Regions from separate parts of the Homo sapiens genome. Here all the other regions are linked to region 1. The links come from fine-mapping of genetic effects on gene expression. A gene starts in region 1. Each other region holds a variant in brackets. All regions are shown on one strand. Distances are from middle to middle.

Region 1 (8,180 bases):
TAGGACTGAAATTACACCAAATGTGCTTATCCCTGAGAAGCATGACTAAGGGTAATTTGTTTTGTAGTTATTTTTCAAGATTTTAGAAGGAATATATATTTTGGCCGGGTGTGGTGGCTCACACCTGTAATCCCAGCACTTTGGGAGGCCGAGGCGGACAGATGACCTGAGGTCAGGAGTTCAAGACCAGCCTGGCCAACATAGGGAAACCCCCATCTCTTCTAAAAATACAAAAAAATTAGCTGGGCGTGGTGACACGCACTTGTAATCCCAGCTACTCAGGAGGCTGAGGCAGGAGAATCACTTGAGCCTGAGAGGCAGAGGTTGCAGTGAGCCAAGATCAGGCCACTGTACTCCAGCCTGGGCGACAGAGCGAGACTGTGTCTCAAAAAAAAAAAAACTTTAATTCTTCAGATTTCTCTAAAATCAAATATGTATTCTATCTGTTATTTTATAATTGTAGTAACACTGAACAACATTTTAGCCAGAGTATAAAACTTTCTTAAATATTTCACCATTCCACCAACTTATTTGGAATTTTCTCAAGTACACCTACATCAGCCCTATCCTATACTCAGGTGTTCAAACTCACTGAACTACCATGGGAATCTTCTAAACATGGACACAACATATCACATAAAAGAAGAGGCTATTTTTTTTTTTGAAACGGAGTTTCACTTTGTCTCCCAGGCTGGAGTGCAGTGGCGCAATCTTGGCTCACTGCAACCTCCGCCTCTGGGGGTTCAATCAATTCTCTTGCCTCAGTCTCATCAGTAGCTGGGTCTACAGGCACACTCTACCACACCCACTGATTTTTTTGTATTTCAGTAGAGACAGGTTTTTACCACATTGCCCAGGCTGGTCTCAAACTCCTGAGCTCAGGCAATCTGCCAGCCTCGGCCTCCCAAAGTGCTAGGATTACAGGCATGAGCCACAGCACCGGGCCTAAGGCTACTTTTTTTTTTTTTTTTTTTTTTTTTTTTTTTTTTTTTGAGACAGAGTCTTGCTCTTGTTGCCCAGGCTGGAGTGCAGTGGTGCGATCTCGGCTCACCGCAACCTCCACCTCCCGGGTTCATAGGATTCTCCTGCCTCAGCCTCCTGAGTAGCTGGGATTACAGGCACCCACCACTATGTCTGGCTAATTTTTGTATTTTTAGTAGAGACGGGGTTTTGCCATGTTGGCCAGGCTGGTCTTGAATTCCTGACCTCCAGTAATCCACCTGCCTCAGCCTCCCAAAGTGCTGGGATTACAAGCGTGAGCCACCAAACCCAGCCTAAGGCTACTTCTTTACATACAAGTTTGTTAATTTCATTTTACAAGTCCAAATTACAACTGCCAGTTTAACTAAGGGTAAAGTTTCAGCATCCCAACTAAAATGATAAAGTCTGCAACTGCCTGTAAACATTGTAACTATATTGCAACATTTAGCTACTATCAAAATCCTAAGACTACTATTTGAAATAAGTTCAAACAATGTTTCCTCAGTGCATTACCTACAGACCCTAGGGACAAAGACAAAACCTAAGGTTAACTTCAGGCATCCACTGCCATCTATCAAAGGAACAATGCAGAGCATAAAACTCTGATAGGGGCATCTTCCTTCCCTCTTCCCTTTTCCCCTTCTCTCCCAACAGGTGTTTTGCTCTGCATTCTCCCTTTCAGTAGTATTTGGTAGAATATCCTGAAAGAAACTTGTTTCCCTTGACAAGAATTTTCACTAACATTCACTCACAGCATTCAATGACTGTGCAGAAGTCCCAGCACAAATAAATGTCTCACTCATTCCTTTGTGATAAAAACCCATTCTGAAGCAAAGAAAAACTGCACCTTTTCCTAAATGTTATTTTGAGATATTTAAATTAAGTGAGCTTAAGTTTTATTTGCCTTAGTCACAAGTCCACAGTACAATAAAAGCAAAATTCAACCGCCAGATACAGTGCAAAGTAAGTTCCATACTAAACCACATTGCAAGGTTACATCTTTTTCAGTGGAAAATTTTGGAAAGTCACATCATTGTGGAGAGAATACAGTATAAAAGCACTTAAAAAGTTGGCCATTTTAAAGTGCTATATGACAGATGTATTAATGTGCTGCATTCACAAAGGTGGTTATGTGAATATACCAAGAACTAGTGTCTTTTGAAGACTATTTATGTTGGTTTTCCCTATGTTTTGATATGTTTTCCTATGTTATGATTATTCATTAAATAATAATCTTATATCCAAACTCACTGAATTTTTTTTTTTAACTCCACAGCCATTGTGGGACAATAAACCTTAAAGGCTGATATCATAACTATATGCTTCAGAAAAGTGTTTATGTTAGCAGGGGAGAGAAGAAAGAAAATATCAACAAATGAATCCCTATCTGAAGTCCAAACTGAGAAATGCATTATTTAATATGATCACAGTGCTAGTTTCAACTATTTAAAAATACAAGTCCATTATACTTCTAATGCAAAAAGTACAGAAATCATAATCAAGACACACAATTTCTAATGCATCAACACTATTTACTTTATGTCAGAACAAATCATTCTACCTTTTTTCATGAAAAATAAATGCACTTGAATAATTAGAAATGCTGTCACTTAAAAACTTCTAATAAATTAAGTCATTCAATAGCTCTTCTAATCCTTTTTAAAGTACTGCAGCTCAATCAAGTCTTAATTGAGACTGGCAAGCATAAAGGCATAGACTGGCATCTCTACAATGACTTGCATTTTACATAAAATTTGAAAAAACTTCGGTAGATATTTGCAAAAAAAAATATTGAGGAACAAAACTGATCAACTGCCTTTGATAGCAAAAGAATACTGATGAGATGAAGAGACTTAGGTGCACCTTATCGAAATAAGCAAATGTATAATCCAAAGCTTCAGCATCATCAAAACGCAGATTTCAAAAGATATTCGGAAAAGGTTAATTTCATTTCTTAAGTGGCAAGCAACTGCACTCATTTCCTGTTCAGATTCAATTCAAATTTCAGCCATTTCCTTTTAAAGGAAACAGTACAGCAACATAGGGCAGAGGGTCGATAATGCTACACTACCAAATCTAAAGAATAAAGTACCCGGAACTGGGTCTTGACACTCAAGATGAGCAATCAGCTTTTTATAGTACTCTTACACATTCAATAATTTGGCTTCCTTTAAAAAAAAAAAAGTCCACCTGTAAACTAAATAATGCGAAGAAAGCCCGTTTTGAAGAAAGGGCCTAGCAATACAATCATTTCAAGAGTTTTAATGCATTAGGCAATACGAGACTATTTACAACGAAATCAAACCATTTTAGTGGAATCTTGACTGTGCACGAGCATGTCACTCTGCCCCCAGTAATTAAGCTTATGTGGTGAGAGCTACCAGTATTAAAACAGAAAATACACAGGTAGCAGTGCAGCTGCGACATTACCAGGTAATTAAGCCTCCCCGAGGGTAGGTGGTTTCTGTATGGGGTAGGCCCTAAACGCCCAAGATCCTTCAACCCCTCTCTGAGATGTGTGCTTTGACAAAAGCAGCGTCTCCTAAAGGGAAAGGGTCAAGGAATAAGGTTCCAAAAGAAGGAAAATCTGGAGAGAGGGAGTGCGTACGGAGCTCTGGGCTTGGGGCCGACAGAGGTTACCGAGCCACCCACTGCAAAGGCGAGTTTGTGGGGCCTGCTGAAGAGAAGGCCTCGCCTAGGAGTTGCAACACACTCTTTCTCCAGTGCGCAGCGCTCGGCCTGGGGGAGGGGGAGGAGGGGAAACAGCTGCCAGGGGAGCGGCGGGCCCAGCCCGGCCCGGCCCGCTCACCGTCAGGGTGTCGTCTATGTAGAGGGGAATCTGCCTCCTCTCGAAGGGGAACTCCTCCTCCCCGTCCCTGCACACTGCCACGAGTCGCGCCATCGTCCCCGACGCTGCCGTTGCCACCGTCACCACCTCCTCCCAGCTGCCGCCGCCGCCGCCGCTGCTGTTTCTGCCGCCGCCGCTGCCGCCTCCTCCCAGCTCCTGCCTGCAACAGCCAAACCCCGCGAGCGTAAGCACCCGCCGCTGCGCAGCACATTCGCCACGGGGGGCAGGGAGCGGAGCGGGAGGGTACGGGAGAGCCGGGCTGCGTTTCCCATCACCCGATTCCACACACGCTCAGCCAATCAGCGCCCAGCGCCGCCGGGACCCGCCCCCCTCGCGCCGCGCTCCCTCCCTCTCTCCCGCCCGCCCGCCCGCCCGCCGGCCTCCAGTCAGGGTCCAAAGGAGAGGCGGAAGGGACCGGCCTGCCGGGGGCTTCCCCGCCCGCTGCAGGAGTCCCGGCCCCAGGACCCCACCCCTGGCCTGGGCCCCGCAGCCTGTTCCCCGCCGCCCGCCGCCCGGGTGCCCTCTGCCCCCAACTGACCCCTTCTCCCCGCTTCTGGGCGCACCCCGCCCAGTCGGCCCCAGGACTGCAGTTGCCCAGCGCGACCCCGCCCCTGGGAGGGATCGACCCCGCAGCGGCTCTGCGGAGTCCAGGGAACGGGGAGGCTCAGACCCTTTCCTCACCCTTCTCGGAGGAGGCTGTCGGTTCCGACCTTCACCGTTTTCGTGGTCGCCTCGCTAACTCCCACCTCTGCTCCCTGTTACTGGCTGACGAGGCCCGCGTCAGGGCCGGCGTGGGCGGGAGCGCAGCTCCGAATGTCGTTTCCTCTACGGGCAGTCAGCCGCTCGCGCCGCGGGGAGTGGAAGAAGGAGGGCGGGGGACGAGGGGAAGGTGGGGCCGGGCGGGGTCGGGCGCCGGGCGGGACCCACGTCCTCTCGCGAGACTGGGGCTGGCCGCGCTGGGGACCCCGCTGGAGAAATTTGCGCCCAGAGGGTGCGGGGCCGCCCTGGCCGTCCCGCCCGTGGGCCCGGCGCCCTTCTCGGAGCCCAGCCATTCCGCTAGACCCGAACTAGGACTGGTAGGAGGGGTGATCGGCCCAACCTCAGGCCCCAGCCGCGGGCCGGGAAGGCTTCCCCACGGACGAGGGGCAAGCCCCTCGACGTCAGGGTGTCGTCTATGTAGAGGGGAATCTGCCTCCTCTCAAAGGGGAATTCTTTCAGCGAGTCAAGCCCGTCTGATTCGGGGCTGACTCAGGGCAGAGGCCCAGAGAGGACCTGGATAGGTTGCGAGAAGTCGAGATCAGAGGGGGCGGAAGGCAGTGAGAAAAGGGAGACGAGCATCGGGGGGTGAGAGACAAACTCAGGTCTGGCTCTTGGCCCTTGACGCCACTGAATTCGCTTCCCACGGTGGGAAGAGGAGAAAAGGGCCCTGACACCGCGGCTCGCCAGGGGCCCGCTGCGTAGCTGCATCCCGATCCCGCTGAGGGGACAGCAAATAGTGAAGTGCTGATAGCTTGTGGTTGTCGTTACACTGGAAGGAAATAGAAAACCGGACAGTGGTGTGTGTGTGTGCGTCTTGGCCAAAGGAACTTCTTGGGCTGGGTTAATGTGAGCAGGTACTCCCTTGGGCGAAGTACTGGCACTGGCCAACGGCCTTTCCCTCTGGCCGTCTCCGAGGAAGCAGAGCTGCTGTGAAGACAGTTCCTCTCGCCACCGTGTGTTCAGTTCTGACCTTGAAGGTTTTGGAGGTCTGTTGTGAAGATATTTAGCCTATGAAAGTCCTGGTGATCTGAAGGACAGATCAATTTACTGCTCTATTTCCTGGAGCTGTGATACCTTTAAAAAAAGTATTTTGGGTCGGGCATGGTGGCTCACGCCTGTAATCCCAGCACTTTGGGAGGCCGAGGTGGGTGGATCACCTGAGGGTCAGGAGTTTGAGACCAGCCTGACCAATATGATGAAACCCCCGTCTCTACTAAAAATACAAAAATTAGCCGGGCGTGGTGGCATGTACCTGTAATCCCAGCTACTAGGGAGGCTGAGACGGGACAATCACTTGAACCCGGGAGGCGGAGGTTGCAGTGAGCCCAGATCGCGCCATTGCACTGCAGCCTGGGCAACAAGAGCGAAACTCCATCTCAAAACAAAATAAAGTATTTTGGTTATCACATGGAGTCTTAGAGATTCACAACAAATAACCCATAGTGCACCCTTAGCCATGTTGACTTAGTACATTGTGTGGTCATTGTTAGGGTCGGTGACATAATAAACGAAGAACCATTGTTCATTCCCGAAGGTGTCATTACCCGGCAAATATTTATGTCTTCTGGGCCGGGGTCATGGCTCACGCCGGTAATCCCAGCACTTTAGGAGGCGAGGTGGGTGGATTACTTGAGGTCAGGAGTTCGAGACTGGCCTGACCAACATGGTGAAACCCAGTCTCTACTAAAAATACAAAATTAGCCGAGCGTGGTGGCGCACGCCTGTTATCCCAGCTACTCGGGAGGCTGAGGCAAGAGAATCGCTTGAACCCGGGAGGCAGAGGTTGCAATGATCCGAGATCGCGCCATTGTGCTCCGGCCTGGGCGACGAGTGAAACTACGTCTCAAAAAAAAATTTTTTTTATGTCTTCTGGCCATGTTAGCAGAGTAGAAGAGTGAGTATTAGCTTGAATCTAATACGTATGTATGATGTTCATATACATAGCCAAAATTTGGACATTTTTAGAGAATCTTGCGTTTTATGTAAAAAACAAAACAAAAACCAGGACGGGGGCGGCGGCTAACACCTGTAATCCCAAGACTTTGGGAGGCCAAGGCGGGCGGGTCACTTGAGGTCAGGAGTTCGAGACGAGCCTGGGCAACATGGAGAAAACCTGTCTCTACTAAAAATACAAAAATCAGCTGGGCGTGGTGGCGAGCACTTTTAATTCCAGCTACTCCGGAGGCTGAGGCAGAAGAATCGCTTGAACCGGGAAGGCGGAAGTTGCAGTGAGCCAAGATACTGTGGCCTTCAGTATCTAGAGGTGCTCCTACAGTGGTACATCAATTAATGTACCCACTTTAAACCTTTTTTTTTTTTTTGAGACGGAGTCTCACTCTGTCGCCCAGGCTGGAGTGCAGTGGCGCTATCTCGGCTCACTGCAAGCTCCGCCTCCCGGGTTCATGCCATTCTCCTGCCTCAGCCTCCCGAGTAGCTGGGACTACAGGCGCCTGCCACCACGCCCAGCTAATTTTTTGTGTTTTTATTAGAGACGGGGTTTCATCGTGTCAGCCAGGATGGTCTTGATCTCCTGACCTCTTGATCCGCCCGCCTCGGCCTCCCAAAGTGCTGGGATTACAGGCGTGAGCCAACGTGCCCAGCCTAAACCTTTTAGACTTCATTAGGATTCTGGTTGGTAAAGAACATTAAAAATGACAAGCTCATTATATAGGTGCTAATTTTAATTACTTTGACTACTGAACACACGCCAGGTACTAACAAAGAAGGGAGTATTCACCCTGGGGATTTAAATCTGTGAAAAGGTATTAAAACATATATAAAACATAATAAAATGAAATCCCAAAGGTCTCTTTCCATCTGAGCTTACTTTCCCTAATTTGGGTTTGTCTCTTAGGTCCACCGGGCATACTTAGTATCTTTGGACAAATAGGAATTCAATGAAAACGTATTCTTAAAGGCGAAAAAGGTGGATTTGCTAGGTAAGTTGCTGTTTCTCAAGGAGGTAGCCTGGGTGCTATAAATCCAATCCAATCTAATCTAATCTAATACCATACAATATAATACAATCGATACAATAAAATCAATATCCCAAGGAAAACGCTTAGAAAATTATTTCATGGCAAAATAATTTTTCAAAGTTTTCACTGTGCATCTTCCTGGTTTTAGAGTAGGCACTTATTTTTATTTTCACTATTGCTCTATTTTTAGCCATAACCACCAGTACTGCAGCAAATACTTCTTGAGAATTATCCTATGTACTTTAAAATGAAAAGTATCTGCTTTTAGAGAGCAAACCTCTAATTGACGAAATATATAATTGCTACATTAAAAGACAGTTGTCTGTTGCCTATTATTTCATTTTGATATTGGCATTGTGAAATGCAAGTTCAAAGGATTTGAAAGGCCAGGAAAGTAAAGGCAATCAACAGCAGAACACATTTTGCTGGTACCTAATAAAGAACAGTTGGAGGGACGGAGCTGTAATAAATTATCAGCAAACTACCATTCTTTTTCTTAGGTCCAAATGTGTGAGACGCTAGCCACAAAATGCAGGCATAAATGAGATCTATCTGTTCTCCAGGCTACCTAGGTTTAAAAAAAATGAAAAGTACCAAGGTATTCCTTATTATGT
Region 2 (8,180 bases), 52 kb after region 1:
ATGTGCCACCATGCCTGGCTATATTTTTTTTTTTGTATTTTTAATAGAGACGGGGTTTCGCCATATTGGCCAGGCTGGTCTCAAACTCCTGACCTCAAGTGGTCTGCCTGCCTTGCCCTCCCAAAGTGCTGGGATTACAGGTGTGAGCCACCGTGCCCAGCTGTTTTTATATAAGCATCCAGGGAAAAGTCAGCCAGCACACTCAGGAAGTCATTGTCACTCAGGGCTTTGTGAGTCACCCCAGTAAGCCAGGCCTCATAGAATTAAAGTGGCCGAGGAAAGGTGAAAGTATGTTGCACTGGGAGGTAGAACCCCAGGGTCTGGATCCTGGTTCTGCCCCATTCACTGGATGATCTTGGCTAAGACACATTTTCTCGGAGCCTGTCTATAAAATGGGCTAATACTCAACCTACTGCATGGAGTCACAGCAAGGAGTAAGTGAAATGACAAGGCAGAAGGAAACACCAAATTTCCATTCAGAGGAATAACTATAGGCCTTAATCTGGATGAAGTCTCCCATGAAAACACACAGGCCTGCTAAACAGAAGGGTAAATGTTTTGCCCTTCTGGCTTTAAGCAGTCATAGGAATGTGACAGACATTCCTCTTAGGGAGCGCCTCCTCCTAGGGTTTCCTCATCTGTCTCACACTGAGTGGATGTAATGCTATTTTAATCCTGCTGTGGCCCCCAATACTAGTACTTGTCCATACCTTCTTGCATTTTTAGCGTCTGCTCTGTGGGGTTGTTAGGCCCTGGCACTCCCAGGAACTAGTGCTAAAGCTGCATCTCTCTCTCCCCTCTAGGGATCGATAAAGTTTCACTGCAGAAAGTCTCCACTGCGGTATGCTGACATCTGCCCTGAACCTTCACCCTACAGCATTACAGGCTTTAATCAGATTCTGCTGGAAAGACACAGGCTGATCCACGTGACCTCTTCTGCCTTCACTGGGCTGGGGTGATCCTTGGTGCCTTTGTTTCCACAAGGCCTTTTCCTGCCCCCTGCCTTGCCAAAGACATTTAATCAGCACACAGCTGCCAGACTATTCCCACAGTGCTCCAAATGCACATGAACAACAGTGACGGCTCCAGCCTTCGACCCAGAGCCCCGTGCCCAGTGCGTCAGTGGGCCTGGGGTTCCAGGCTACATCAAGCACTGATGGTGTCAGGGCTGGTAGTTACCAAATCAGGGTTAAGAAACATCAGGGCCACATTTCACTACCTTCACAGATCAAACTCAGCAGCAGTCATGACTGTCTGTCACTACACTGGGGATCCCAATTCCACATAAGCACTTTTGGAAGAAAACAGCCAAAGTTGGCCTAAAATTGGCGCTGGAATTTGGGCTGGGAAAAATCTTGTGGTTATTTCCTTTAAAAAGGAACAAAACTTTAGTATTTAATTAGTTGATTTATTTAATGTAATTTCAAACAATTAAATTATGAATAATGCAATGTACAGTAGAATCACGTTTTGATTTTATTAACACTGACCAAGTTTAACTCCATATGAAGTGTAAGCTTGATATCGTTTATGATGTCTATCAACTGTACCAAAAGTAAAACATTTAAAAACAATCATCTGAATGTCAAGTTTTCTCTCCATAAAGGACTTGCCACCTTAAGGACCCCAAGTCTGCCTGAAACATGAGCCACATCAATGCCGGTAAAGGCCTGCATGACCTAATCTGCATCCTGGAAACCTCTTTTGCCTGAGCTCCCCAGCCCCAAACTAGCTGGTCTGGGAGAGGGAGCAGGCAGGTTCCAGGAGTCAAGCACACGCTTGAGCAAGCAGCACAATAATCCATCTTAAGACTCCTCATTCTGGGATGGCTCCACAATTCCTAAACAGCAGTCTGCAAACTCCACAAACAAAGGCTCTTGCATGTAAGCTCTCATGAGCTTTGCTTTGTCTTCTCCCTGATCGAGGTTGACCATCAACTGCCTGAGGTGTGGATTGAGCAATAAGCTTCTTAATGTTGCAGATTCCCCTAAAAATTAACAAGAAAAAAAGCCAGTCTGAGTTCAAGTGGAAACACATGGAGATGGCTGAAAAGTGAAGAGCTATTTCAAGTGTAATAAAACTATCAGCAAGGTGTGGTGGCTCATGCCTGTAATACCAGCAACTGGGGAGGTCAAGGTGGGCAGATTGCTTGAGCTCAGGAGTTCAAGACCAGCCTGTGCAACATGGCGAGACCCCACCTCTATAAAATGAAAGGTAAGACCAGCATATCAAACTATTTCCGCATTAAATGCAGTAACAGATACCAGTTCTTGGTATCTTTGTAAATATTGTAACTTCGTGCCACTTCAGCTAAGAAAAAAATGCTTTATCAGCACAATCACAAAGCAAATAGTAGCATTAAGCTGCTGGCATGTTTTCTTTCTTTCTAGCCATAAAAGTTGCCAGTGGTGAAGACGGCTATACGAAATAATCTGAATGATGTCTAAGCATGCCATTTGGCATGCAGCAGCACCAGTAGCAGGGAACCAACAATAATACCTGCATGGTACTTCACAGTCTGTAAAATTTTTCACACCTATTACTAGCTCATCTCCAAACTCAGTCTAACTAATCATTACCATGAGACTAAGTGCAAAACATAACCTTTTAACATGATTCTGTGAAATGGGAAGAATGAAATTAACAGACCCCATGCACATGTAACAGAATGTTGTAAGGACTGAATAAGCAGTGCTACAAAAATGGCAACACCTGTTTCCCCCTAAATCAAATCATGTGATAACCAGTTTGTGTTAAGGGCTGGACTGTGAGCTGAGCACTGGGGATCTGGGAATACAGGTCCCTGCTGTACAAATCGGTATGTGAGAGACAAATTACCATGAAATGTAACAGTGATTTATTACTATTAAGTCCAAGTTGCTATGGGAAACCAAAAAAGTGCCTAATTCTGAAAGAGACACAAAAGGTCAAGAAAAGCTTAGCTGAGTGAAGAAAACTTGAACCAAGGCTTGAAGGAGGAGCAGAATTTTGCCAACCCACAAGACCAGCAGGATTCCAGGCAGAAGGAATGGTGTGGGCAGGCTGGGAGGTGTGAAACCCTGTATGTTTACAGATTATGTGGCTAGATAGTAAGAGCCCTACATGCCATACTTATTCAAGAAATTAAAAACTTTTTAAAAAATCACAATCCTTACAACACAGTAAATGTATCTCAACGATTGACAAGCATAGCACAGACTTACCTAAATTCTTTAAATTCTGCAAAGAAACTCTGTCTTCTTCCTCATCACTATTGAGAAAATCAGCTATAGAGTCATCATCATCTAAGGAATACAAAACAGTCAATGGCTCATGGCTAAAAAGGAGGCCTGGGCACCAGATTTTAACCACTACTTGAACAGGATAAAAATGTGTGCACGCACATGTGATAGTGATAGGGGTATTCAAGCAGGTACAGACAAAAATCCTCTTCTCCGGAGTCTGTGACTATACTAACACTCCTTTTTTAGAAGAGGGAGGCTAAGTGAAAGAATTGGTGATTTTAACAAATGCACTCTAGTGTTCACATCCTTACTGTATATGTGGTCCTGTGGTCTTTAGGCTTAGACCCCGGTTGTCTAATAACTTAATACCCATCCCCACCTCAACATGGCTCCAACCCTGTGATGGGCCAATTAACTGGATGCTCTGTAAAAACCAGCCAAGTAGAATCTCCTGTGCTTTCAGCATGGGCAGAAACTGCTGGCATTGCCTGAACCCAACCTGGAAATTTCTCAAAGGGCAAAAATGGGCCATGCCTTTGGAGTGAATGTTCAATACCTCTTTGGTGGCACCAGAGGGGCTGCTTTCAGAGCCTGGCATGGTGCTTGACACCCAGGAGGTATTAAAGAACGTTTAGATGGCTGGACGGATGGGTTGACAGCCCACTACTGCTGTGAGCTCTGAACCCCCAGCAGCAGCGAGATGATCTAGGACAAAGAAAGCCTCCTGCCTGGGCTGAGTTCAGGTGAACTGACAGTCCCAGCCAGATTCATGGAGGGAGACCAGCAGCTATGGGCTAGAGAAGGCTCCTGCCAGCAGGGCCCACCGCAAACCCCCAAACCACAGCCATGGCCTTTCTCATCTCTGTCTTCTGCCCATTTTTCTTCTCCTGAATACTGCTTTCAGGCTGTTGCCTCAATATCACCCATGATGACATGGCCCCACTCCTGATGCTCAAGGCTAAGGAAGCTGTTCCTTCCCAATGAAGCTATTGTTCTGGATTCCCTGACCAGCCCCACTCTCCCCTTTTCCTTCGACTTATTCTATGTGAAGTCCCTTGTAGATTTGTTTGAAGTCAACCAACCCACCTTTGTTTTCCACAGGCTTTACGGTTTTGGTAGGAAGAGCTGATCTTATTTTTTTCTCAACAGGACGAGTTTCAGGGTTGCACTGTTCTGAAAAAGACACAAATCCCAGGCCCACATTACCTCCATTTCAGCGACAAGGCTGCACCTCCCTACCAAGGTAGCATCTAGGTAGGAAGCAAGTGTCTGGGGTAAGGGATGTGGGTGGGTGCCCAGGAATGTGGAAGAAGTGAGAGATCAAAGCAAGAGAGAGATTAAGGAAAACCGCCAGCAGGCTGAGAAAGCAGGACTCATTCATGCACCCCAAGAA[C/A]CTGTCCCCATCCTCCCTACCCTGCCGAATCTTACAAAATTCTCACCACAATTAACTGAGGTGTTTGAAATAGCTGCTGTAAACCAGATACCAGATGGGATAAAACTAGGGGCAAAACCACCAAAGAACTTACAGAGTCAACAGAAGGCCAGCTGTGCTGGCTCACGCCTGTAATCCTAACATTCGGAGGCCAAGGTGGGAGGATCACTTGAGCCCAGGAGTTTGAGACCAGCCTGGGCAACCTAGCAAGACTATGTCTCTACAGAAAATAAAAAAAATCATCCAGGCATGGTGGTACACACATGTGGTCTCAGCTACTTGGGAGGCTGAGGCAGGAGGATCCCTTAAGCCCAGTGTGTCAAGGCTGCAGTGAGCTGTGATTGTGCCACTGCACTCCAGCCTGGGTGACAGTATCAACAGAGCATGAAGTCACAGGAAAGGGTTCTGAGGACATAAAGGCAGGACCAGATTGTAGAGACTTAAAATGTAGATTTGACAATATGCTACGGAAAGGTTCTAGTCATGTAGGTGGCAGTTACAACAGCTGCCAGTGACTAAGTGCCGAGCACTGTGCCAGGTACACAGTGAGATACATAGTGGCTCAATGAACCTTTACGAAGCCCCCATGACATGGAGACTGTTAATTCCACTTACAGATGAAAGGATTAAATTTTCTTGTAATAAACTTGTCCATTGGGGTCCACAGCTAGTAAGTAGCAGAGGCAGATTTGGAATCCGGGTCTAACTTTACGGCTATGCTATATGTGTAAGGAACACAGCAGGAGGGACTGAAGGAGAGGTGAATTTTCTGGGTTGTACCTGACCCCAAAATACATTTGTGTCTAAGGTGCTCAAAAAGAGGCTGGAGCTAAACAGTTGGATGTCAGCAAGAAAAAAAAAAGTTTAAAGTGAAAGAGAGATCACCTACCTAGGAATAAAAGTCAAGGACCACATTTCAAGAGAGAGATCTAGCAAAAGGAAGGAGAAGCTGGGCACAGTGGCTCCTGCCTGTAATCCCAGCAATTTGGGAGGTTGAGGCAGGAGGACTGCTTAAGCCCAGGAGTCCAAGACCAGCCTAGACAATACAGTGAGACCCTGTCTCTACGAAAAATAGATAAAGTTTGTCTCCGTTACTCAGGAGGCTAAGGTGGGAGGATCACTTGGGCCCAGGAGGCCAAGGGTGCAATGAGCTGTGATCACACCACTGCACTCCATCCTGGGCAAAAGAGCAAGACCCTGTCTCGAAAAAAGGAAAAAAAAGAAAACGAGAGTCTACAGCTAAGCCACCCTGAATGCACCCTATCTCATCTGACCTCAGAAGCTGTAACAGGGTCAGGCCTGGTTAGGACTTCGAAGGGAGAAAGGGAGGAGAGAATACCACAGAGCGGTATCTTCCCAGCCTCCAAAGAATATCAAGAAAGAAAAAGCCAAACACAGCAGATATTCATGGGAATCAAGAAAGATGACAGGCTGAGCATGGGTAGCTCACGTCTGTAATCCCAACGCTTTGGGAGGCCAAGGTGGAAGGATCACTTGAGCCCAGGAATTCAAGACCAGCCCAGGCAATACAGTGAGACTTCATCTCCACAAAAATTAAAATTAAAAATAAATAAGCCAGGCATGGTGGCACACGCCTGCAGTCCCAACTACTTGGGAGGCTGAGGTAGGAGGACTGCCTGAGCCCAGGAAGTCAAGGCTATAGTGAGCACCACTGCACTCCAGCCTGGGTGACAGAGCAAGACTTTGTTGCAAAAAAATAAAAAAGACAAATGAAAAGTGTACAACAGATGTGGCTATTAGAAATTTCTGATAAAAATTATTTATTAAATACCACTTTAACACTGCCTATAGCAGCAACAAAGGCAAAATTAATGTAAATATCCACCAATAAGAAAAATAAATATTAAAATGACCATACTACCCAAAGTAATCTAGAGTCAATGCAATCCCTATCAAAATACCAATGATCCTGTTCACAGAAATGTCAAAAAAAAATTCTAAAATTAATATGGAACCACAAAAGACCCCCAATAGCCAAAGCAATCCTGAGCAAACAGAACAAAGCTGGAGGCATCACCACTACTTGGCCTCGAAATATACTACAAAGCTATAATATCTAAACAGCATGGTACTAGCATAAAAATAGACACATAGATCAATGGAACAGAATAGAGAACCCAGATATAAATTCACACATTTACAGCCAACTGACTTTTCACAAAGGCACCAAGAGCATATACTGGGGAAAAAAGCACTCTTCAATAAATGGTACTGGAAAAATAGGATAACTGTAAGAATAACCATATGCAGAAGAATGAAACTAGATCCTTATCTGTCACCATATATAAATATCAAAATGGATTAAAGACCTAAATGTAAGACCTGAAACTACTACAAGAAAACACAGGGGAAATGCTTCAGGACATTGGTCTAGGCAAAGATTTTATGAATAAAATCTCAAAAACACAGGCAAGAAAAGCAAAAATAGGCAAATGGAATTCTATTACACAAAAAAGCTTCTGTACAACAAAGGAAACAATAGAATGAAGAGACAACCCACAGGATGGGAGAAAATATTTGCAAAATATTCACTTGACAAAGGATTAATATCTAGAATACACAAGGAGCTCAACAGCCAAAAAAAAAAAAAAAAAAAAATTAAGTGGACAAATGGGCCGGGCATGGTGGCTCACCCCTGTAATCCCAGCCCTTTGGGAGGCCGAGGCAGGTGGATCACCTGAGGTCAAGAGCTCAAGACCAGCCTGGCCAACATGGTGAAACCTTGTCTCTACTAAAAATACAAAAATCAGCCAGCAGGCACCTGTAATCCCAGCTACTTTGGAGGCTGAGGCAGGAGAATCACCTGAACCCTGGAAGCGGAGGTTGCAGTAAGCAGAGACTGCGCCACTGTACTCCAGCCCGGGCGACAAGAGCAAGACTCTGTCTCAAAAAGAAAAAAAAAAAAAATGGGCAAATGAGCCAAACAGACACTTCTCAAAAGAAGACATATAAATGGCCAACAAGTACATGAAAAAATGTTCAACATCACTAATTATTAGGGACATGCAAGTCAAGACCACAATGAGGTATCATCTCACCACAGTAAGAATGGCTATTATCAAAAAGAAAAAAACATGTTGGCAAGGATGTGGAGAAAAGGGAACTCTTATACACTGCACTGTTATTGGGAATGTAAATTAGTATAGTCATTATGGAAAACAGCATAGAGGTTCCTAAAAAAAAACTACGAATAGAACTACCATATGATCCAGCAATCCCACTACTGTATATATATCCAAAGGAAATGAAATCAGTCTGCCGAAGAGATACCTGCACTCCTGCGTTTACTGCTAGTCACAACAGCCAAGATAAGGAATGAACCTAAGGATCCACCAACAGATGGATAAAGAAATGCGGTACATATATACACTGGATATTAGCCATAAAAAACCATGAAATCCTGTCACTTGCAGGAACATGGATGAGCCCAAAGAACATAATGTTAAGTGAAACAAGCCAGGCACCATAAGATGTTCTTGTTAACATGTGGATGCTAAGCAAGT
Region 3 (8,180 bases), 82 kb after region 1:
TCTCAGCCAGAATTGTAAACCTTATTTTATTCTGGCTTTGCCTGGGTAGTCCCACCATTGTCTTCCAACATTCTCAGGGGAATCTGTAAGATTGCTATCCGAAAACTTTGTGGGGGAAATTATACAACAATTTGAAAAACTTTAAAGAGTACATAAATGATGGAATGTTAGTCCTATGTACTAAAAATGCCAATTATCTTGTAATTCATTTAAACAGTCAAAGAGATTCTAGTCTAGGTGCAGTGGCTCATGACTGTAATCCTAGAAGTTTGGGAGGCCAAAGCAGGAGGATCACTTGGGCCCAGGAGTTAGAGACCAGCCTGGGCAACATGGCAAAACCCCGTCTTTACAAAAAATATATAAAAATTAGCTGAGTGTGGTGGTGTGTACCTGCAGTCCCAACTACTTGGGAGGCTGAGGTGGGAGGATAATTTGACACTGGGAGGCAGAGGAGGATCACGTGCAGTGAGCCATGATTGTGCCACTGCACTCCAGCCTGGGCGACAGAGCGAGACTCCGTCTCAAAAAAAAAAAAAAAAAAAAAAAAAAAGTCTTTAGCCAGAATGGATCACCATTGAATGGGCCTATATTTTCCAAGCAGGATTTGATTAAATCTGGTCACACTTTAGGCCTCAAATTCAGAGATGATGTAGGCAACGCTCAGTGGAGACATCCCATAATGGAAGTGGACAGAAGTCCAGGAAGAATGACCTGACTCTGCAGTGCCACCAGAGTTGCTATAAAGTTCTGAAATATATTATGTTTCTTCATAAAAGTTAAGTTCTACAGTCAGCATGAAAGTCAGAAACTACATTGCGGTTTTTTTGTTTTGTTGTTTTTTTGAAACAGAGTCTCACTCTGTCACCCAGACTAGGCTCACTGCAGCCTCCACCCTCTGGGCTCAAGCCATCCTCCCACCTCAGCCTTCTGAGTAGCTGGGACTGCAGGCATGCACCACCACGCCTGGCTAATTTTTTATATTTTTTGTAGAGACGGGATTTCACCTTGTTGCCCAAGCTGGTCTTCAACTCCTGGGCTCAAGTGATCTGCCTGCCTCAGCCTCCCAGAATGCTGGGATTACAGGCCTGAGCCACCATGCCCAGCCAGAAACATGTTTTAAACCAACCCTCAACCAACCCATACTTTGGAGAAATACCTACAGAAACTAAGATTGGTGGGAGGCCCAGCAGCGTCTCACCTCCCATCTCAGACTCAGTCCAGGACACAGGCTCAGGGGGCAGAAGGAGGGCTGATTCGCCTGCATCTTTTGAAATTCTTTCTTTCTGTCTCTGCCTCTGCCTCTCTCTGTCTTCCTCCCTTCCTCTCTCTCTCTCTCTCTCTCTTTCTCTCTCTCTCTCTTTATTTATTTCACCTGAGTTTCAGAGTCCTTGGCTGAATTTGTCCACAACTTCCTGCAGCTCTAGCTGGGAGCCGAGAAGCATCACTGAGGACCACAGCCCCTTGCTTCCCAGAGCCCGGTCCCCTGCACTGAGACTGCTGTTTTGGCGCCTGTGGTGGTCCTCTTCATCCTCCACTCTGCTTCCCAACTCACTTACCACATATGGTCACCACCTCCTGGGTCATGTCACAGGGTACCAGGGCTGGAGTTGTTTCACCAGGTCAACAGGCATGGCTGCTGCCCTAGTTAGAGAATGTCCTAGAAGACAGGTCAAACCATCATGACATCCTTGGGACCAGGGGATAGGAGACAGAGGCCCCCAGTGCACAGTTGTGTGCATTGGTGCCCATATCCCCTTGCTCAACTTCTAGGAACTGGCTCTGGCCCCCTGCACACTCCACAGGCCCCTCCTGCCAATCTGCCTCTAACAATTTTCCTGCCTTCCCCTTTGGAGGGCAAAGACCAGAGGTGGCCCCTTGTTTTGTTGAGAAGCTCAGGGATCTGGTTCTTCCAAGGAGTCTTGGAATCAATCCCTCCTTGTCACTGTGCCCTAGAGTGTCTTGTAGCCTCCATTCCCATGGGTCTTCTTGGGCAGGTGGCAAATAGAGCTGACTGAGCAGTAGGGTGACTCCTTCCAACCTAGAATCCCAAGCTGCACAGTAAGGACGTAAGAGGACCGCCAGGCCCAGCACTCCCACTCTCCCCATGTGAGGGTAAAAGTTGATGACATCTCCCAGCCCTGCGAAGGTCCCGCATCCCACTACCTGCCCTCCCGCAGCTGGAAGGGCTGACTCCTGGAGAGGGAGGATTTACCTGAGGGCTCTGACCACCTTAACTGCCCAATGCCTTTCTGGAGACAGTGGCTGCCAAAGGAGACACGGACCTGTTGCCCATCTGGACAGTGTTTGTCAGGGAAGAAAGGGCGGCTTATGCAGCAGCCAGGCAGCACCGGGAAGGAGCTGGGTTGCTCCCGCCTTCCCGTTTGCATCACGCGACTCCGCGGGTCCCAGCGCGGCCCTGGCTAACCCGGATCGGCGCCACTGCCGGGTCACTGAGCCTCTCCAGGACGGAGCCTCGCTTCGCGCAGGAGCCCAGGCCATCCTCGCTGCGGAAAAAAGGCGGGATTCCTCTCCTGACCCATAGTAAACGAGCTGCGCTGGGGCGCGGGGAGCAGACTGCTTTTCTGGGGAAGCCGTGGGGCTCTCCACTTTTCGGGGTGGGGAGGGGAAGCTGAGCAGGGCGCAGACCAGGGGCCTGCCACATGGCCTCTGCGCCAAAAGAGTAGAGCCCAGGATGAGGGGCCCCTAGCCAGGCAGACCCAGCCCAGGAGGTTTTGGGTCTTGGGGCCTTGGGTGTGGACTGGTCCTAGATGAGCCCGCCAGGTTGGGTGCCACCGGCCTTGACGGGTTCAGGAGATGGGACGTTATGTCTAGACGCCGCCACGCTTTATCGCAAGCCCGGGCCTCATCTAGACCCCAAGGGGCACCCCAACCTGTTTAGGGTTCCCGGGACTCGTGCGCTTGCCCGCCTAAGGCGGTAAATTGCCATCGTCTCCAAAGGCCGCCCCCACTTCGTCCGCTCCCCACCCGCCCCCAACCCCAGGCTCAGAACCCGCCAGAGCAATCCAGGCCCGTTCTCTAGGTCAGAAATGCCGGCCCTGGGGTCATTTGTCCCTGTAGGGAGAGCGCCACCCGCTTGCCCCGGGGCGCTGTCCAAGCCGCGGTGCTGAAGCGCTCCGGGCCCTGACTCAGCGAACACACAGTCGTCACCGCGTGCAGCCGCCACTCCCCAGCCTGGGCCCGCTCCAGGCCGCGCCCACACCGGCTAATCATCCGCCCGGATGCACGTCTGCCTCATCAGGCTTAAACTAGAATCGCCTCGGAGGTTGGAGATTCCTGAGGAGGCCCAGAAAGGGCCAATGCTTGTCCCGGGCCAGGCAGCTGGGAGAGTGTGGAGCTCCATTCCTGAGCTCCATCCCGGATCCCGCAAGCAGCGGCTCACTCTGCCTGCTCCAGACCCGTCCCCTCCAGTGAGCCCAGAGGAGGGTCCACTCACTCTCGAAGAACGCATTCTTCCCACTGGCATCCAAGCCCAGCAGACCCTGCTACCTATGGGGTGGTGGGGGGGAGCGCAGTCAGACAATCCCTGGAATTGGTCCCGCACACCGCCAGCAGTGAAGATGCCTCTCTCCCTTATTTCTGGATGCCCCCCACAGCTTCTATGGATGCCCACAACCCCTTCCTCCCTCCACCCTCAATGTCCAAGCAGGCAAAGAAGACCGGGTGTCCCCAGTGAAGGGCTCTGCAGTGAGGGGTCTAGAATCTTGCCCTTGAAGGAGTAAATGATATCCCTCGAGTTGAGCGTGATCATGATGGCATGATATTGGGCCAGGCACTAGTCCAGCAAAGAGAGGCCAGAAGAAGCAGCCAGATGGCAGTGCTGGTGCCCAGAACCATGACCTGTCTTGCCCCAGG[C/G]CCCCACGGGTGACTTCTTAGAGTCGGCCAAGGATCAGTGCAGGCCAGGAGAGAGATGAGATAATAGTCAAGGCAAAAGGGTTTTGAGAGGATGTTCCAGGGGAGCAGAGCTAGCTGCCAGCACTCATTTGGTAGATACAAATGTCGTGTCCTGGTCTCTGGTCTCGGCAGATGTGTTCAATAACTCACGTCTGGCATCTCCAACTGCTAGGCCGTTCCATTTCGAGCTGTGGAGAGCATTCTGGCTAGACCCCGTGAGCAGGGCCCCAGGGGACTGGGCTCTGTGTCAGGGATGAGTTCACACTATGGCAAAGAGCAGGTGGTGGCCTCAGGGCTGTTGAGCTGTCCCAGAACAGGATTCTTTTCTTTTCTTTCTTTCTTTCTTTCTTTCTTTCTTTCTTTCTTTCTTTCTTTCTTTTCTTTTCTTTCTCTTTCTTTCTTTCTCTTTCTTTCTTTCTTTCTTCCTTCCTTCCTTCCTTCCTTCCTTCCTTCCTTCCTTCCTTCCTTCCTTCCTTTCTTTCTTTCCTTTTTTGAGATGGAGTCTCACTCTGTCACCCAGGCTGGAGTGCAGTGGCATGATCTTGGCTCACTGCAACCTCCATCCCACGGATTCAAGTGATTCTCCTACCTCAGCCTCCCAAGTAGCTGGGATTACAGGTGCCCACCACCATGCCCAGCTAATTTTTGTGTTTTTAGATAGACATGGGGTTTCGCCATGTTGGCCAAGCTGGTCTGCAACTCCTGACATCAAGTGATCCACCTGCCTCAGCCTCCCAAAGTGCTGGGATTACAGGCGTGAGCCACCTCGCCCAGCCCAGAATCAGGATTCTTAAAATGATTGTGCTGCATACTGAATCATGTTGCTTTTGACTCTTGTAGCTGGCCCCCTTCCTTCTCTAGGGTGCCTGCTGGTACACCCTGGATGATGTCTGAGACAGATGGTGCTGCTCAGCCCCTTGAGGGGCTGCTCTGCCCCATGGTTGAGGTGGACTGTCAACCATGGGGCAGGAAGATCTAACTCCCCTCCCTCATGGTCCTCACATTGTGGGTCCCCTGGCAATAGATAATAACAAGTGTCACCATGGACATTAGAGTGACCCCAAGAGACAGAAAAGGTGGGTATTAGTGAACACATTAGGGGAGACAGAAGGGCAGAGAGGGCACGGGACAGTCACCAAGACTCCTAATGACTAACTTCTTCAAACTTCTCAGCAACATCCTCTTCCCTGTCCCCTGCTCTCCACCTCATCCATCAAGGAGCTGATGCTAATGGGGTTCCCTTGTTCAGAGCCAGACTGCTATGGTTACTATGGTAGTTAACAAACAGCCACTCCAGGCTCTTAACAAAGTAATCCTCCTGGAGGGACAGAAGAGGGCTTCTGTGGCCCGAGGACCAACATGTTACCTCTTGGCTGGCTTGGCAGCCATGGCAAGGACATGAACAGCATCCACTGAGGAAAGGAGACTGCTGGGCACACCGTGGGGAGGGGCAGGAGCCTGGAGGAAGTGCAGATGTCGGGATTTGGCTGCCGGCCACACCTGCTGGGCCCTCAGGTCGTGAGACACAAAGTGTTGCTTTACCTTCTCATTGCGGTAGCCAATCCAGAGCTGTGACAGCAGTTGTTGGGGAAGAATGTGAATCCAAACGCATTCAGCAAGCCTGCTAGAATGGGAAAAACCCAGGGGGCCCTGGGAGAGGGTCTCCCTGAAGCCCAGGGTGGCAAGGCTCCCGCCAAATAGAATAATTCAGCATCTGTATAAACCAGAATAATTCTACCACCTGGATGACCTACAGTAAGGCTGAGGAACATCACACTGGGCAGTGCACAGAGCAAATGCAACCCTCCATACACCACCTGGAATGGTCCCCGTTTCCCATTCTGCTCTCTCTGTGAGCCTAGAACAGATGCAAAGGCCCAGTGGAGGATGAGGGGCAGCCCCAGCGCACCAAGGCCTACTTTTGAGTCTGTATTTTCTGGTCCTGTGTCTCTTAGGAGTAGCCCCTTCTGCTGGAACTTCTGAGCAGCTTTTTAATGCCTCATCCCCAGACAGGAAGAGATAGTCAAAGATTGTTAGCCTTTTTGAGGCCAGATGTGGTGGCTCATACCTGTAATCCCAGCACTTTGGGAGGCCGAGGCAGAAGGATCACTTGAGGCTAAGAGTTCGAGACCAGCTTGGCCAACATGGTGAAACCCCATCTCTACCAAAAATACAAAAATTAGCCAGGCATGGTGGCAGTCCTGTAATCCCAGCTACTCGGGAGGCTGAGGCACAAGAATCACTTGAACCCAGGAGGTAGAGGTTGCAGTGAGCCAAGTTTGTGCCACTGCACTCCGGCCTGGGCGACAGAGCAAGACTGTCTCAAAAAGACAAAAACAGAAACAAAATCAATTTGATGGAAAGAAAGAACTAGTCTAAGAAAAAGAAAGAGCTTTTAGAATTTAAACTGTTTAGCCAGGTGCGGTGGCTCACACTTATAATCCCAGAGCTTCTGAAGGCTGAGGTAGGAGGATCTCTTGAGACCAGCCTGGGCAACAAGTGAGACCCCATCTCTTAAGAAAAATGTTTTAAATAATTTAAGCTGTTTAATAAAAATTCAGTAGGATTGGAGGATAAAGTTGAAAAAATCTCCCAGGAAGTTAGCTGGAGGTAGGGGAAGGAGAATTGGAGTAAAAGAAAAGGAAGGAAGGAAGGAGACGAAAAGAGTTAGTTGATTAACTTCGTATTAGTAGAAATTCTAGGAAGAGAAAACAATAGGGAGGAAATTATTATAACGAATTTTTGTAAATCCCCAGAATGGAAGAGCATATGTTTACCAGCTGAAGGAACTGATACCACATATCCACATAATGCGTGAAAAAAATACCATAGAAAGCACAGCACTGGCAATTTTGAAAAATGCCTACAGGATAAACAAAAGATCCTAAAACTTCTGGGGGAAAAGAAGTCCACCCCCTAGGGACTAGATATTGTCACAGCAACACCGGAAGAATACAGAAGTAAACTTCAAATGTTGGAGGGAAAACTATCTCCATATGGAAGTACATATCTAGTCAAAATATTGATCAAATGTAAGAGTAGAAAAAAGATATCATTAGATGTTCAGGGTCTGAAAACTTTACCTTCCATGTACCTCTGCCAGGAAACTTCCAGAGAATGTACCTCACAAACGTAAAGAAGTGAACTAAAATGCAGAAGCTGTGAGACTCAGAAAAATGGGATGTCATGGGGTGGGAGTGGAGTGCCTGGGGACCCCATAAATGAAGGGGCAGAAACACTCATGCATGACAATTCATAGCAGGAACACGAGGCAGCCAGCCCAAACAGAAGCGGGAGGTCTGAGAGCTCCAGAAAGCCTGGGAGATGCCCTGGTCATTTCCCTGTCCCACCCTCCTACCCCTGGTGCCTCACCCAGGGCTGGCAAAGGAAGGGAGCTCAACTCATATGTGGATGATGGCAGATCCAGCGCACAGGCACGAATGAGTTCATGATGAAAGTGAAGTGCCAGGGCATGAGAGTGAAGTGCCGGGCAGGCAGTTCCCTCTGAGCAGCTGTGCCACTACCACTTGACACACACTACATGCTCCTGCAGCAGCCCTGTTGCTGCCACCAGACGCCCACACCACCCCGGGAGCCTCTGTCCTCGCCCAGCCAGTCCTCAGCATTGTCCCTACCTCCATGGGAACAGATATGAGAGGGATGCTGGTGAGCGGCAAGCAGGCTGCTCCAGCAAACCCTCTTTCATAAGTAACCCAGTTAACTTCTGAGGTGCCCTGAGCATCTGCTATGCTTGGCACCAAGTGCTTTATATGTGTACTTTTTAATCCACTGGGAGGCCATTTTATAGGGAGGGAGCTGAGGCTTGGGGTCTGAGGTGGGGGCACCAGGCTCCATCTCCTTCCTCATGTCCTGTGCCGACCCTGGGTGATTACCCTCAACCTCAAGTCAGAAACCTGCCCCTTGTGGGCAGGGACCCAGCATGGCCGGAAAGGGGTCTTTGGTTGGGTTTGTGTGGTCTACATCATGAGTCCAGTCACATGGGATTCCCAGTACATGATAGGGTATTCTGGTACCTCCAAGACCTGGGGTGGCAGGGCAGTGAGAGGGAGGGTATTTGTAGACCAGATAATGCCAGATTTGGGTTCAGTGCTACTGGACCCATTCTGTATGTGGAGCAGAAACAAGGGAGCCGGGGCCCTGTACTCCGATGTCTGTAGCTCAAGGAAGGGTCTGACGCATGCCCTAAACAGAAATCCACCATGGCTTAAGGCCAGGGGCACTGGGCAGAAGAGGACCAGGCAGAGGAT

What was found. PIP is the estimated chance that this variant, and not a neighbour inherited with it, causes the effect.
Region 2: its variant is fine-mapped to the expression of GGNBP2 in whole blood (TOPMed, PIP above 0.99).
Region 3: its variant is fine-mapped to the expression of GGNBP2 in whole blood (TOPMed, PIP above 0.99).

The regions. Positions count from the first base shown.
Region 1 is chr17:36,541,428-36,549,607 of GRCh38, reverse strand. It overlaps GGNBP2 (gametogenetin binding protein 2), which reads right to left and starts at 4,689. Exons shown (of 14, transcript NM_024835.5): 1 at 4,511-4,689; 2 at 3,791-3,989. The coding sequence starts at 3,883. It also overlaps a transcript of MYO19 not described here.
Region 2 is chr17:36,489,030-36,497,209 of GRCh38, reverse strand. ZNHIT3 (zinc finger HIT-type containing 3) reads right to left here. Exons shown (of 5, transcript NM_004773.4): 3 at 4,311-4,397; 4 at 3,204-3,284; 5 at 1,388-1,987. The coding sequence ends at 1,806. MYO19 (myosin XIX) reads left to right here. Exons shown (of 26, transcript NM_001163735.2): 26 at 804-1,574. The coding sequence ends at 959. It also overlaps the pseudogene RNA5SP439. Among named protein-coding and RNA genes, the nearest start is that of ZNHIT3, 6.4 kb to the right of the region's middle. The variant C/A (reference allele first, on the strand shown) is at 4,618.
Region 3 is chr17:36,459,103-36,467,282 of GRCh38, reverse strand. No RefSeq gene overlaps it. Among named protein-coding and RNA genes, the nearest start is that of ZNHIT3, 23 kb to the left of the region's middle. The variant C/G (reference allele first, on the strand shown) is at 3,874.